3 separate regions of the Homo sapiens genome follow, and all the other regions are linked to region 2. The links come from fine-mapping of genetic effects on plasma protein levels. Region 2 holds a variant in brackets. A gene starts in each other region. All regions are shown on their forward strands.

Region 1 (4,161 bases), not on the chromosome of region 2:
AAGTGGAAGGGAAGAGAAATGAAGTGTCTTACTCAAGGCCAGTGAACTGATATGTGTTGGAGGGAGTAGGAAATGAGAAGTAAAAATCTTGTGCTCCCACTGCTGGTCTGAGAATTGAATAATTCCCAGTTGTCTAGGAATATTCAAAATTATTGTATACAATGACTTAAAATCCCCCTGGAAGACATGCAGTTTCTAAATGCCTAATTGCCACAACTGAAGTAAATCAGTAGTCATGGTCCAACCTCTATTGGAGAGGAAGGGGGATTTTGAATGATACAATTTATGTTGTTCAACATAGCTCTCTTTTTATCCAATGGCAACCTTTTACAGATGACTTGGAGTTGCAAAAAGTCAAAGATTTGCTTAGGCAAATTCTTTATTCATGACATTGTGCACCCAAGATTTTCTTTCCTCCAGCCAGTCTCTGGAAACACATTTAGGGTATTGTGCTATTTTCATTTTATGACTACAGAAACAGAGTTCAAACGTTCTTAGTCTAAGACTATTCAGCAACTTCTTTCTAAACTAGGAAGGTATGAATCTGAGATCTCCCATTTTCAGAAAGCTTCCATAATCTTTGCATATATCGCATTCCAGCTTTCATAGAGGGGATGTCTGAGTCATTTGCTCATCCGACAAATCGTCATACTTTTGCCAACAAACATTCTTCCTTGGTTTTCTCTCTTCCTGAAGCGTGTAGCAATGTTCCTAGCTCTCAAGAAAGATCTGGAGCAGCTCGGAAGATAAGAGCAATTGAAGAAGAAAGTTACAATTTAGTGGAGTTAATTTTATCGCAGACTTTCAGCACGCTATTCACATGCAAACTTCACACAGAATATTTTTATCACTACCTTATTGGAATAGATTGGTAATTAATAGCTTGTAATCCACCATTGCTAACATGTTTTGACTTATTAAACACTTGGACAAAATAAAAGAAGATCTGTTTTGCCATAAGGGGGAGCTTTTGAGTTCTATAAAGAGGGGGAAAAAAGAAGAAAAAAATATATTACATGTATGTCCCAGTTCAAAAACAGACCTACAAAGCAGCAAATGGTCAGATCCTTACCTGTGACTTTAACAATTTCAGAGGACCTGAATTGCTTAAGTTGAAAACATTAGGCAAATTAATATTTTTCTCTCATTTTCTTCTTATAAAATTAAAATAATTTCTAATGACCAACAGAGTATTTTAAAGAGTATTCGGGGAAATTCAGAGACCCAGTTGTACTAGGACTACAGCTTCTGAAAGGCAGATGTCCTGGACAGTGCCTTTCTTCTATTTTCTTCTGATGATTCCATAAGAACTTTGGAAACATTTGGGTTAGCTGAAGCCAGCCTTATCTGGGGGCTCAGAAAAGAGGGGAATGGTTCATCATCGTACAACTTTAAGGAAATTCTGAGAGGGAAAAGGACAGGGAAAAGAAGAGGGAAAGAGGTAAAGGGAGAGGAAGCGGGAAGAAGAGTAAGGGAGAGAGTGAGAAAAAGAGAAAGAGAGGGAGAGGGAGGGAGGGAGAGACAGAGAGAGAGAATTAAAAAAAAAAATCTAAGAATCAAGTTTCAAGACTCTTTATGTGCTACAGAAAAGGATGAGGTTTACCAGCAAAGTGCAAAGGGGATCCTAAGAGAAGAGACAGATTTTTCTCCTGCCATCAGAAATAATAATAATAAGTGGGGGGAGTGAGGGAGGGAAAAAAAGCAAGCAAAACAAAACAAAAACAGGAATGTGTGTTTTGAGCAGGAATGAGAGCTGGGAGGACCGTAAGGGGGTGTGTACAGAATTTCATTAAATTGTTACTTTAAGATTGTCTCCTTAAAAAAAAAAAAAAAAAAAGAGAGAGAGAGAGAGAGAGAAAAGGAGGGGGTGGTGGAGAAGCGGGAGCGAAGGAAAGGAGGCAAAAGGCAAAGTGAAGGAAAGCTGGATAGCTCGGCCTCTCCAAACTGATTGATTAGTCATGATCCCCGCAGTTTTAACAGGGACTCATTCAATTGGGAAGGTGGAGCGCTGGGGAGCAGATTAGCATACGCTTGTTTACTCATCTTCTGAGGGATTTTTTCCCCCTCTTTCCTTTCATTTTGAGAAGAAGGAGGGAGGGGAGGGGGGACTTGGGGGGGGAGAAGGGGGCTGTGGCTTGTGTTATAAAGGACGCAAAAAATAAATAAATTAGAGCATCTTTTGGGGGGAGGGAATTCAGCGGATCAGTCTTAAGAGGAGCTTTTTTTTGGAGCGAGAAATCATATAAAATAAAATGAAATAAAACAAGGAGGAAGGCAACCAGCTGTTAGGGGAAAAATAAGGCAGATAAAGGAGCGGGGAGAGAAATTAATTGCCAACCAGGAGGAGTTGGGCTGTATTTTTCAAAGGTGGGGAGAGTGGAGCACACACCTTGAGGAGGAAAGCGAGAAAGAAAAGAAAAAAGCAAGTGGAAAGGGGGGCTCGCCCAAGAAGGGTGAAGAAGCGAAGAAAGTCGAGGCGCCGAGGCTCCCAAAGCTGGCAGCTCCGGGTGGCGGTGCAGGGGCGAAGGGGGGGCGGGGGGAACCGTCGGACATGCGGCTCTGGAGTTGGGTGCTGCACCTGGGGCTGCTGAGCGCCGCGCTGGGCTGCGGGCTGGCCGAGCGTCCCCGCCGGGCCCGGAGAGACCCGCGGGCCGGCCGACCCCCGCGCCCCGCCGCCGGCCCGGCCACCTGCGCCACCCGGGCGGCCCGCGGCCGCCGCGCCTCGCCGCCGCCGCCGCCGCCGCCGGGCGGTGCCTGGGAAGCCGTGCGCGTCCCCCGGCGGCGGCAGCAGCGGGAGGCGAGGGGCGCCACCGAGGAGCCGAGCCCGCCGAGCCGGGCGCTCTATTTCAGCGGGCGAGGCGAGCAGCTGCGCCTCCGGGCCGACCTCGAGCTGCCCCGGGACGCGTTCACGCTGCAAGTGTGGCTGCGAGCGGAGGGGGGCCAGAGGTCTCCGGCAGTGATCACAGGTAGGTGAGGGCGCCTCGGCGGGCGCTGCACCGTCCCTGCGGCCCCAGAGGCTCGCGGGTGTCTGGGCGCGGGTGGCGGGCGGGTCGGGGGCTTGCGGGCGTGTCTGTGCGAGAGCTGCCCCGCGAGCGGCGCAGAGACATCCGGGCGAGCTGAGAGCCTCACTTTGCTCCATCGGTGGAATGGGCACACTCGGAAGGCGTAGCTGCTCCATCCCTGGGAGGAACCTGGGGAGCCCTCCTGGCGGCCCCGCGGACCCTCGGCCAGTGAGGGCTGGTTCCCGGAGCCTAGGGCACGTAACCCGTGCTCCGAATGGTCAGATGCACTCTCTCCTTTTGGGATGAAAGGGAGGATGACCCAATTGAGATGCATGTGAAAGGAGACTTGGGGACCGTTGATTTCTTTGACGTTTTAATGGAGGTAACTCCCCTTCATTAGGCCCCATTCCCCTGAAAGCCGGCAAGGGCAAGGTTGTTGTAATGGCCAGGACTTAGAAGTCCTCGAAGTGCCCCAAAGTTGCTCACTGATTGAAGCCTGCCTCTGGGACTCACCCTCACCCCCTCCACGCCATCCCATGTCCTAGCTTTTAAAGCCCATTGCCTGTCACTCGGGGCTGGGACGAGACCTTCCTAACGCATACCCCGCCAGCGTTCCCCAGACGCGGCTGCGAAACGGGGCGCTTTTCTCATATGGGACTTTATGAGCCCGTAATGAATTTGAGTTCTCCCTCCTCAACCTCCCTCTCTCTCCCCTTCGCTGTTCCACAGCAAAGCCTATAGTGAAATCGGACACTTTGCGAGGATTGCAAACCTTAGAAATGCTCCAGCATCCATTTTCCCCCCTCTAAATGAATCTGTGGAAATGCCTTTAATAAAACTGGGGAGCGGAGGTGGGGGCGGCGCTGGAAGAGAGGAGGAAAGTTTTGCCTTTTCTGTCTGGGAGATTCCCTTTCTGCACAAACAATCTTGCCATGTCCTGGGACGTCTTAAAGTGAGAGTAGGGGTTCCCCCTTCACTGCAGCCAGGAAACGTGTGAAGGCGTTTTGCGATCCCACCCCCTCACACACACACTTTCTTAGAAGGGAAAGCTGTGAGCTCTCCGGGCAGTTCTGCTTCTTCCTGTCTTTCCATGGCTTGGACTTTCACAGATGTAGCACTGACTATCCAGTTGACATGAAGACCCCTTTAGGAGACCCAC
Region 2 (4,000 bases):
TCTCCAGCCCTCACTCCTCCTCTCCTGGGCAGCATCAAGCAGCGGCTTCGCAGCGGTTCAGCCAGCCCCATGGACCTCCTGTCCTACTTCAAACAACCGGTAGCAGCCACCAGGACAGTTGTTCGGGCCGCAGATTATATGCATGTGGCTTTGGGGCTGCTTGAAGAGAAGTTACAACCCCAGCGGTCCGGACCCTTCAATGTCACTGGTACTCTGATCCCCACTGAGCCCGCTGGGCCTACCCTGGCCTGGAGTAGAAGGAATCCAGGAGAGGGAGGCAGGGTGCACAGGTTTGGGGTGCTGGGAGGAGAGAGGGTAAAGGGATGGGAGGTACAGAGCAGGCCAGCTCAGGTCTGCCCATTTGCCTTCCCACAGATGTGCTAACAGAACCACAGCTGCGGCTGCTGTCCCAGGCCAGTGGCTGTGCTCTCCGGGACCAGGCCGAGCGCTGCAGCGACAAGTACCGCACCATCACTGGACGGTGCAACAACAAGTGCGTGCGGGGCGGCAGGAGGGGCTGCCCCTGCCTGGGGGACCTCTCCCTTCCTGCACCCACCCTCTCCCTCCATGCTGAGCCATCTCCAGGCCCTGCCCCCTGCTAACCTATCCCACCCATGGCTGCAGGAGGAGACCCTTGCTAGGGGCCTCCAACCAGGCTCTGGCTCGCTGGCTGCCCGCCGAGTATGAGGATGGGCTGTCGCTCCCCTTCGGCTGGACCCCCAGCAGGAGGCGCAATGGCTTCCTTCTCCCTCTTGTGAGTTGGGGCTGAGGGTTTGGGAGGTTGCTTGATCTCTTAAATGCGGGGAGTAAAACACAGCCCAGAGTCACGCAGGCAGGGCTTGAACCCAGGCCCTTCCACTGACCAGTGCAGTGACTTGAGGCAAATAACACAGCTTTCTGAGGCTTAGTTTCCTCATCTGTAAAATGGCCCTAAAACCTACCTCGTAGAGCCTGTGTGGATATTGAAGTCCTTGGTATAAATAGCTATAGAGGACATGATCTATTCATGCTAACCATTACGGTGTTGTACGGTTTTTTCTGAGAAAATTAGTGTCAAAGTCTTGCTAAATATAAACAGCTCTATACCTTAATCTGGCTTTATCTATTGATCTATTTCACATTTATCAACTCATCAGTTTTCTATTGATATATCGATAGAGCAGTCTATCATCTACCCATCTATCAACATCTATTAATTAATTTTCTTCTATCCACCCTTCCATCTGCTGACCCCGTACTCCCTACGTGTATTATCCATCACCTGGCAACCAGCCCATGCACCTGTGAATCCGTGCTATCATCTGGTTAGCTATCAGTGTACAAATTGATCTATCTATTTGATCTCCCTTCCCCTCTGGGAGAGCTGGTGAGGTCTGAGCCAGTCAACCTAGCCCCTCTCCTTCTCTTTACCACCGGAATCCTCAGGAGCCCAGCCAGAAACCATCCTTCTAGGAATGAGAGCAGGAGGTGGCTACGCCTCCAGGGACAAAAGGGGCATGGAGGGCAGAAGAGGAGAGGCTGTCAATTCCAGCAGGGGAGCTGCTGCTCCCTGAGTCCTGGGTTGGCTCTAATACCTTGTGGGGTCAGGGAGCCCATGTCCCGTGCTGATGTTATTTCCCCACCAGGTCCGGGCTGTCTCCAACCAGATTGTGCGCTTCCCCAATGAGAGACTGACCTCCGACCGTGGCCGAGCCCTCATGTTCATGCAGTGGGGCCAGTTCATTGACCATGACCTGGACTTCTCCCCGGAGTCCCCGGCCAGAGTGGCCTTCACTGCAGGCGTTGACTGTGAGAGGACCTG[C/A]GCCCAGCTGCCCCCCTGCTTTCCCATCAAGGTACCTACCCTCAGCCAATCTCCCATGCCCTTGTGTGGCCTCCCCCAAAGGCAAGGTGCTGGGGGTGGGGATCTGGAAGACTGGAGCACCATCCTTAAGGAGCTGCCTGTGGAGCTAGGGTATGAGACAGAGACACAAGAAACACAGCTGAGCAGAGACCCCGCGCCGTGTGTGTTTGAGAGGTGGGGGTAGGGCAATCTGCCAGGAGGCTCAGGTCAGGCTTCATGGAGTGGGAAGCCCTTGACACATGCCTTGACCCATGGGTCTGAATCCAACAGGGGAAGCCTCTGGGCCCCTGCTTTTGGCAACCTAAGGGCCTCTTAGCTCTTGCCCTTCTCTCCTTCCCAGAGTAGTCCAAGGGTCCTGCGGCTCTTGCCAGCTTCTTGGGCTTGGGCTGTAAGTAGGGTCCTAACCTTCAGGCTAGAAGCCAAGGACAGTGTGGGGCACTAGGGGAGGAAAGATAGAATCCAGGGAGCAGAGTCTCTGCTAGGAACATAGGGTTGACACACGTGCACACACACACTCTCTCACACACACACACGTGCACACACACGCTCCCTCTCACACACACATGTACACACACAGTCACCCTTAATAGGTGGGGCCACATTCATGAGGGATGACATGTGAGGGCCTCTGGATGGCCTCTCCCTGTTGCAACCTTATCTATTCCTCAATCCCTGGCTTAGGGGCACCTCCTCTGGGGAGCCTTCTCAGATCTTCCTATTACACTTTTAACATATGTCCTCCCCTCCCCTCTCCTCTCTCTCCTTCCTTCCTTCTTCCTTCCTCTTTCTTTCTTTCTTCTTTCTTTCCTTTCCTTCCTTCCTTCCCTTCCTTCCTTCATTTCCTTCCTTCCTTTCTTTCTTTCTTTTTCTTTCTTTTTCTTTCTTCCGTCCTTTCTTTCTTTATCTTTCCTTCTTTCTTTCTTCTTTATTATTATTATTATTGTTTTGAGACAGAATCTCACTCTGTTGTCCAGACTGGAGTACAGAGGGGCAATCTCAGCTCACTGCAACCTCTGCCTCCTGGGTTCAAGCAGTTCTCATGCCTCAGCCTCCCGAGTAGCTGGGATTACAGGCATGTGCCAACAAGCCTGGCTAATTTTTGTATTTTTAGTAGAGATTGGGTTTCACCATGTTGACAAGGCTGATCTCAAACTTCTGGCCTCATGTAATCCACCTGCCTCGGCCTCCCAAAGTGCTAGGATTATAGGCGTGAGCCACCACACCTGGCCCACATATGGCTTTTCTATCAAGCACAGCAGATGCCACTTCAACTTAGTTTCTTAACTCTATGTGTGTGTGTCTTTTTCCACTGAACTGCCAGCTTCCTGCAACCTTTCCTGTGTTTTTTTAACCTTCATAATCTCCAAAGCAGCAAGCAAGAAAGGGGCTTAGAAAAGGTCTGTCGAATTGAACAGAATTAAAGAAGCTCAGGCCTAAGAGTCAAGAGAACTAAGTTCTAATCCCACCTTTCCTGCTAACTGGTTGTCACTTCCCCTCTCTGAGGCTGTTTTCCTTGCTGTAAAATGAGGATCGAGATTGTTTCAAAAGCCTCATTCATTCCTAACCTTTTGAGACTCTATGAAACAAAATGTTAAGGACACTCAGACTGACGGGGTGAGCAGCATGAGCCTGGGTGAGTCAAGGAGGGCTTCCTGGAGGAAGGGAGTTTTAAGCAAGGTTTTGAGGAGGTGGAAGATGACGGAGAGGAGTGAGTCTGCTATTGAGGGGGCCCCATGTCACTGTCTCCTCTTCCATCTCAGATCCCACCCAATGACCCCCGCATCAAGAACCAGCGTGACTGCATCCCTTTCTTCCGCTCGGCACCCTCATGCCCCCAAAACAAGAACAGAGTCCGCAACCAGATCAACGCGCTCACCTCCTTTGTGGACGCCAGCATGGTGTATGGCAGTGAGGTCTCCCTCTCGCTGCGGCTCCGCAACCGGACCAACTACCTGGGGCTGCTGGCCATCAACCAGCGCTTTCAAGACAACGGCCGGGCCCTGCTGCCCTTCGACAACCTGCACGATGACCCCTGTCTCCTCACCAACCGCTCGGCGCGCATCCCCTGCTTCCTGGCAGGTCAGACAGGGAGGAAGGTGGTGTCTTCCCAGGAAACAGCCATCCCTGGGGTCCCAACTGGGAAGCAATGGTGGGATGTGG
Region 3 (4,167 bases), not on the chromosome of region 2:
CTGCAAAAGTTTTAGGAGTCCGCACCAATAGGTAGCGGCAGATCTTGCACCTTGGACTTCCCTGCACTTCAACAATGTCTTCTTCCCTGGGGCACTGGAAGTCCTTGTCTAAGGCAGCTGGGTCCGACTCCATGGCTTCCTCATCCTCAAAGTTGTCTTGACAGGCAGAAGCCTTGACCTCCTCTCCCTCTGCCTGAATCACCTCCTCCGTCAGAGCCAAGTCTCTCTCCTGCTCCTTTGAACTATCCAGATCCTGGCCTAGGTCTGCCTGTGTCTCTAGGCTCTCCAGATGGGGGGCATCATTCTCTGGGAAGAAGAGGTAACCTGCCATCAGGTCAAGAGCTTCCTAGTTCCAGCACCGTGGACAGCTCCAGCAACGTCGCTCGAGCTTTCCTAGGAATTCCACCTGAAGACAAGACTGGAGGATTTCCTTGGTGTTAGGTAAGGAGAGATCTCTCGGGTCACACCCACAAATGGACAAGAACCTGACTTCTGGCCGACACCACGAGTGTGTGTTTTGAAGGTGGGAGAAAGCACGTGTGAGAAGCCTGGGGCAGTCACCAGCCCTTCATCTTAACAGGTGGGTGGTTTTTCCTTCTGAAAGTTCAGGTTACAGTTTGCCGGGTGCGGTGGCTCACGCCTGTAATCCCAGCACTTTGGGAGGCCGGGGCGGGCGAATCACAAGGTTAGGAGTTTGAGACCAGCCTGGCAAATATGGTGAAACCCCATCTCTACTAAAAATACAAAGATTAGCCAGGCGTGGTGGCATGTGCCTGTAGTCCCAGCTACTCAGGAGGCTGAGGCAGAAGAATTGCTTGAACCCGGGAGGCGGAGTTTGTGGTGAGCCGAGATCGCGCCACTGCACTCCAGCCTGGGCAACAGAGCGAGACTCCGTCTCAAAACAAAACAAAAAACAAACAAAAAAAAAAACAAAAACAACAACAACAAAAAAAAATCAAACAAAAAAGAGAAAGTTCCAGGTTACAGTTCTGAGTCCAAGTGATATCTTACCGGAGATGAGCTGTATCAGCTAAAGAGGGAAGGCTGTGGTCCTGGCCTCATGAGTGCAAATAAAAGCGGGGGGAGGGGAGTGTAGGAAAAAGGAAAAAAGGGAAAGACGCATGAGGAGGGAAGGGAGAGACTTACCCAGATGAAGAGCAGAAACTGTTCCCAGCAGGAGAAAGGGCAGGAGCAAGAGGCATTGCATATCTACTGTCTTTTAGCGAGGACACTACTCCACCGTCCTTCTTGGGGCTGTCTTTGTGTGTCTAGTATAGCCCCTGGCACATAGTATAGAGGGAATATTTGTTTAATTGTTTGATTAAAGAGCAAACAAGATTGCTTTCTCCTCTTGCCATGAACAGACCCTGAGCTGGAGAGTCTAGAAAAGGAATGGTGGGAGGGATAACTCAGGTACCAAATTTCATTTGTCTTCCAGTCTCCGTTGCTGCTCTCCAGTATCACCCTTAGCCCAGACTCCTGCCCCTGCGGGGACAGGTCTGCTTAGCTATGATGTTCCTAAGGACAGGCCTCCTACGTGTTTGCCCTATGAGGTGCTGCTTCTTCCCAGGGCCTACACTGGTCCTGCCTGGGCAGCCAGAAAAGAACTCACCTTCCAAGAGTCTGAGACCTCCACTCTCAGTGCCTCTGGCTTCAGGGGCCAGAAGCAGCCTTTATACTGGGTTTTTGGGGAAGTGGGAAGAGGCCAGAATGATTGCTCCAGGACAGAGTGGGGGACAAAGGAGCTGATAATGAAGTTTGCTCAGTCTTCTCAACCCTGTGCCCTGCTCTCTGCTGGGACTGCAGGGACCTGCCTCCTGGGGCCTACTGCCTTGTTTGGGTACCCCACACCCTGGTTTGCTTCAGAAGGCCCTAGATGTTATGTCCATTGTCCAGGCATAATTATTATTTATGCCCCCTAAAATGCCCCAGTCTGAACAACACGCCTTAACTCCAGGAGTAGCCTCCTGCTGGTGGAATCCCAGAGAGTGAAGTGGAGATCCCAGGGAGCTGGTGGGAGACAATGGGGGGAAGAAACAAGAGGGGAAAGGGAGGTTCAGTGCTCCCAAGCTCTCACCCATCCTAGGGGCATAGTGTGCAACACACCCCTCACCCTCATCTCCGCATCATCTCCACCAGGTACCACCCCTACTTCACAGAGGCAAAATGTGAGATTCAGAGAAAGAGAGAAGGCAACTTGCCAAGGTTCCATGGGAAGTGGAAGAACTGGAATTTCTAAGTCTTTTTGACTCCAAAACCTTCTCTCTTTCTTTCCTCTCTCTCTTTTTTCTCTCCCTTCCTCTTTCTCATCTTTTTTTTTTTTCTTTTTGAGACGGAGTCTTGCTCTGTCGCCCAGGCTGGAGTGCAATGGCAAGATTTTGGCTCACTGCAAGCTCCACCTCCCGGGTTCAAGCGCTTCTCCTGCCTCAGCCTCCCAAGTAGCTGGCTAATTTTTTGTATTTTTAGTAGAGATGGGGTTTCACTATGCTGGCCAGGCTGGTCTTGAACTCCTGACCTCGTGATCCACCCACTTCGGCCTCCCAAAATGCTGGGATTACAGGCATGAGCCACTGTGCCTGTCCTCATCTTTTTTTTTTTTAAGAGACAAAATCTTGCTCTGTCACCCAGGCTGGAGTGCAGTGCTGCGATGATAGTTCACTGTAACCCTGAATTCCTGGGCTCAAGTAATCCTCCTGCCACAGCCTCCTGAGTCACAGGGATTACAGGCACAAGCTTTCTCATCTTTAATGTGTGAAAAATCTACATCCTTTCTTCTGTGCTGTGGATCTAGATCAAGGTTCCTCAACTTTGTGCTATTAATATGTGAGGTCAAATAACTCTTTATTGTGGAGGGGCTGTCCTGGGCGTTGTAGAAAGTTTAATGGTCCCTCTGGTCTCTACTCACCAGATGTCAGTAGCCCCTCTCCCCACCCCCGCAGATGATCAAAAATGTCTCCACATGTTTCCAAATGTCCTCTGGGGAGAAAAATGGCCCCAGTTGAGGATCTCTGATCTAGGATATGCCACCTTGCCCAACCTCAAGGCATAGCTTCAGGGCTGGCAAACAGGCAGCATGAAAAGCTCCATACAGAGTCTCTCCAGCACTCTGTAGATCATCCTCTCCAACCAACACTCCCCTCCTCACCTCCCATCTCCCACCAGTCTTCTGTCACCCCAGGGTCTGGACTAGAATCAGGCAGGGGAGGCTCTCAACTCAGACACACTAAGAAATTAAGGGGACACTAAGAAATTTACTATTCAAGATAAATAACATTTTAATGCAACATTTCTTAAAAATTGAAATTAATGCAAAACAAAACATCAAAATTTTAACTGACCAAGCTCTAGACAAAATTTGCTGCACTTTAAAGAGAGGCCAGCATGTCTCAAGCCTTGAATTTGCCAGATGTCTCTGCCAAGAGCTAGTGGACTTGTCAGGGTGAACTCAGAGGCATCCTTGTGGGATGCTTCTCAGAACTATGCCTGGCACATGAGTGGAGGGTGACCCTTGTCAATTAAAATGTGCAGATTGGTAGGACCGGGCACGGTGGCTCATGCCTGTAATTCCAGCACTTTGGGAGGCATGTGCGGGTGGATCACCTGAGGTCAGGTATTTGAGACCAGCCTGCCCAACACAGTGAAACCCTGTCTCTACTAAAAATACAAAAATTAGCCGGGCGTGGTGGTGGGCACCTGTAATCCCAGCTACTCAGGAGACTGAGGTGGAAGAATAACTTGAACCCGGGAGGCAGATGCTGCTGTGAGCAGAGATCACGCCACGGCACTCCAGCCTGGGCGACGGAGCGAGACTCTGTCTCAAAAAAAAAAAAAAAAAAAAGTACAGATTTATTCCCCATATTCCACCCCAGCCCTCCATGGCTCAGGGAGCAGGGACAGGCAGCCCAGAGGGTGAGAAGACCTAAATTCCTTCCTCTTCTCTGCTCTTCCAAAAGACCCACAAATGGAGAAGTAACTGAGAGGCCATTTCTGAGTCTGATTGCAGAGTAACGGCCTTGATCACTATCTCCGTAGCCCAACGGACCAAACCCTCCACTTATCTACTTGACTGTAGGAGGACTGGCCAGGTCCAGGACCTAAAAACCTGGTCACTGGATTTCAAGCTTGAGACCTCCCTAGTGGTGGAGGGTGGAGGCATAGACCCCCATT

Alleles and levels. Positions count from the first base shown, and alleles are read on the strand shown. Strength reflects both the effect of a copy and how common the allele is.
In carriers of allele C in region 2, the plasma level of the protein whose gene starts at base 2,170 in region 1 tends to be lower than with A alone (weak association).
As copies of A replace C in region 2, the plasma level of the protein whose gene starts at base 1,649 in region 3 goes up (moderate association).

What was found. PIP is the posterior inclusion probability: the model's chance that the variant is causal. The UK Biobank Pharma Proteomics Project read protein levels with antibody pairs (Olink). The fine-mapping took linkage between variants from a reference panel, not from the people measured, so its PIPs are less certain.
Region 1: it holds the start of PAPPA, and the variant in region 2 is fine-mapped to the plasma level of the PAPPA protein (UK Biobank, PIP above 0.99).
Region 3: it holds the start of PRG3, and the variant in region 2 is fine-mapped to the plasma level of the PRG3 protein (UK Biobank, PIP above 0.99).

The regions. Positions count from the first base shown.
Region 1 is chr9:116,151,622-116,155,782 of GRCh38, forward strand. PAPPA (pappalysin 1) reads left to right here and starts at 2,170. Exons shown (of 22, transcript NM_002581.5): 1 at 2,170-2,966. The coding sequence starts at 2,552. RefSeq lists a silencer at 3,947-4,036.
Region 2 is chr17:58,193,339-58,197,338 of GRCh38, forward strand. EPX (eosinophil peroxidase) reads left to right here. Exons shown (of 13, transcript NM_000502.6): 3 at 33-208; 4 at 376-493; 5 at 625-754; 6 at 1,626-1,832; 7 at 3,601-3,919. Among named protein-coding and RNA genes, the nearest start is that of EPX, 2.6 kb to the left of the region's middle. The variant C/A (reference allele first, on the strand shown) is at 1,802.
Region 3 is chr11:57,379,502-57,383,668 of GRCh38, forward strand. PRG3 (proteoglycan 3, pro eosinophil major basic protein 2) reads right to left here and starts at 1,649. Exons shown (of 6, transcript NM_006093.4): 1 at 1,613-1,649; 2 at 1,147-1,280; 3 at 1-306. The coding sequence starts at 1,207. RefSeq lists an enhancer at 1-1,037.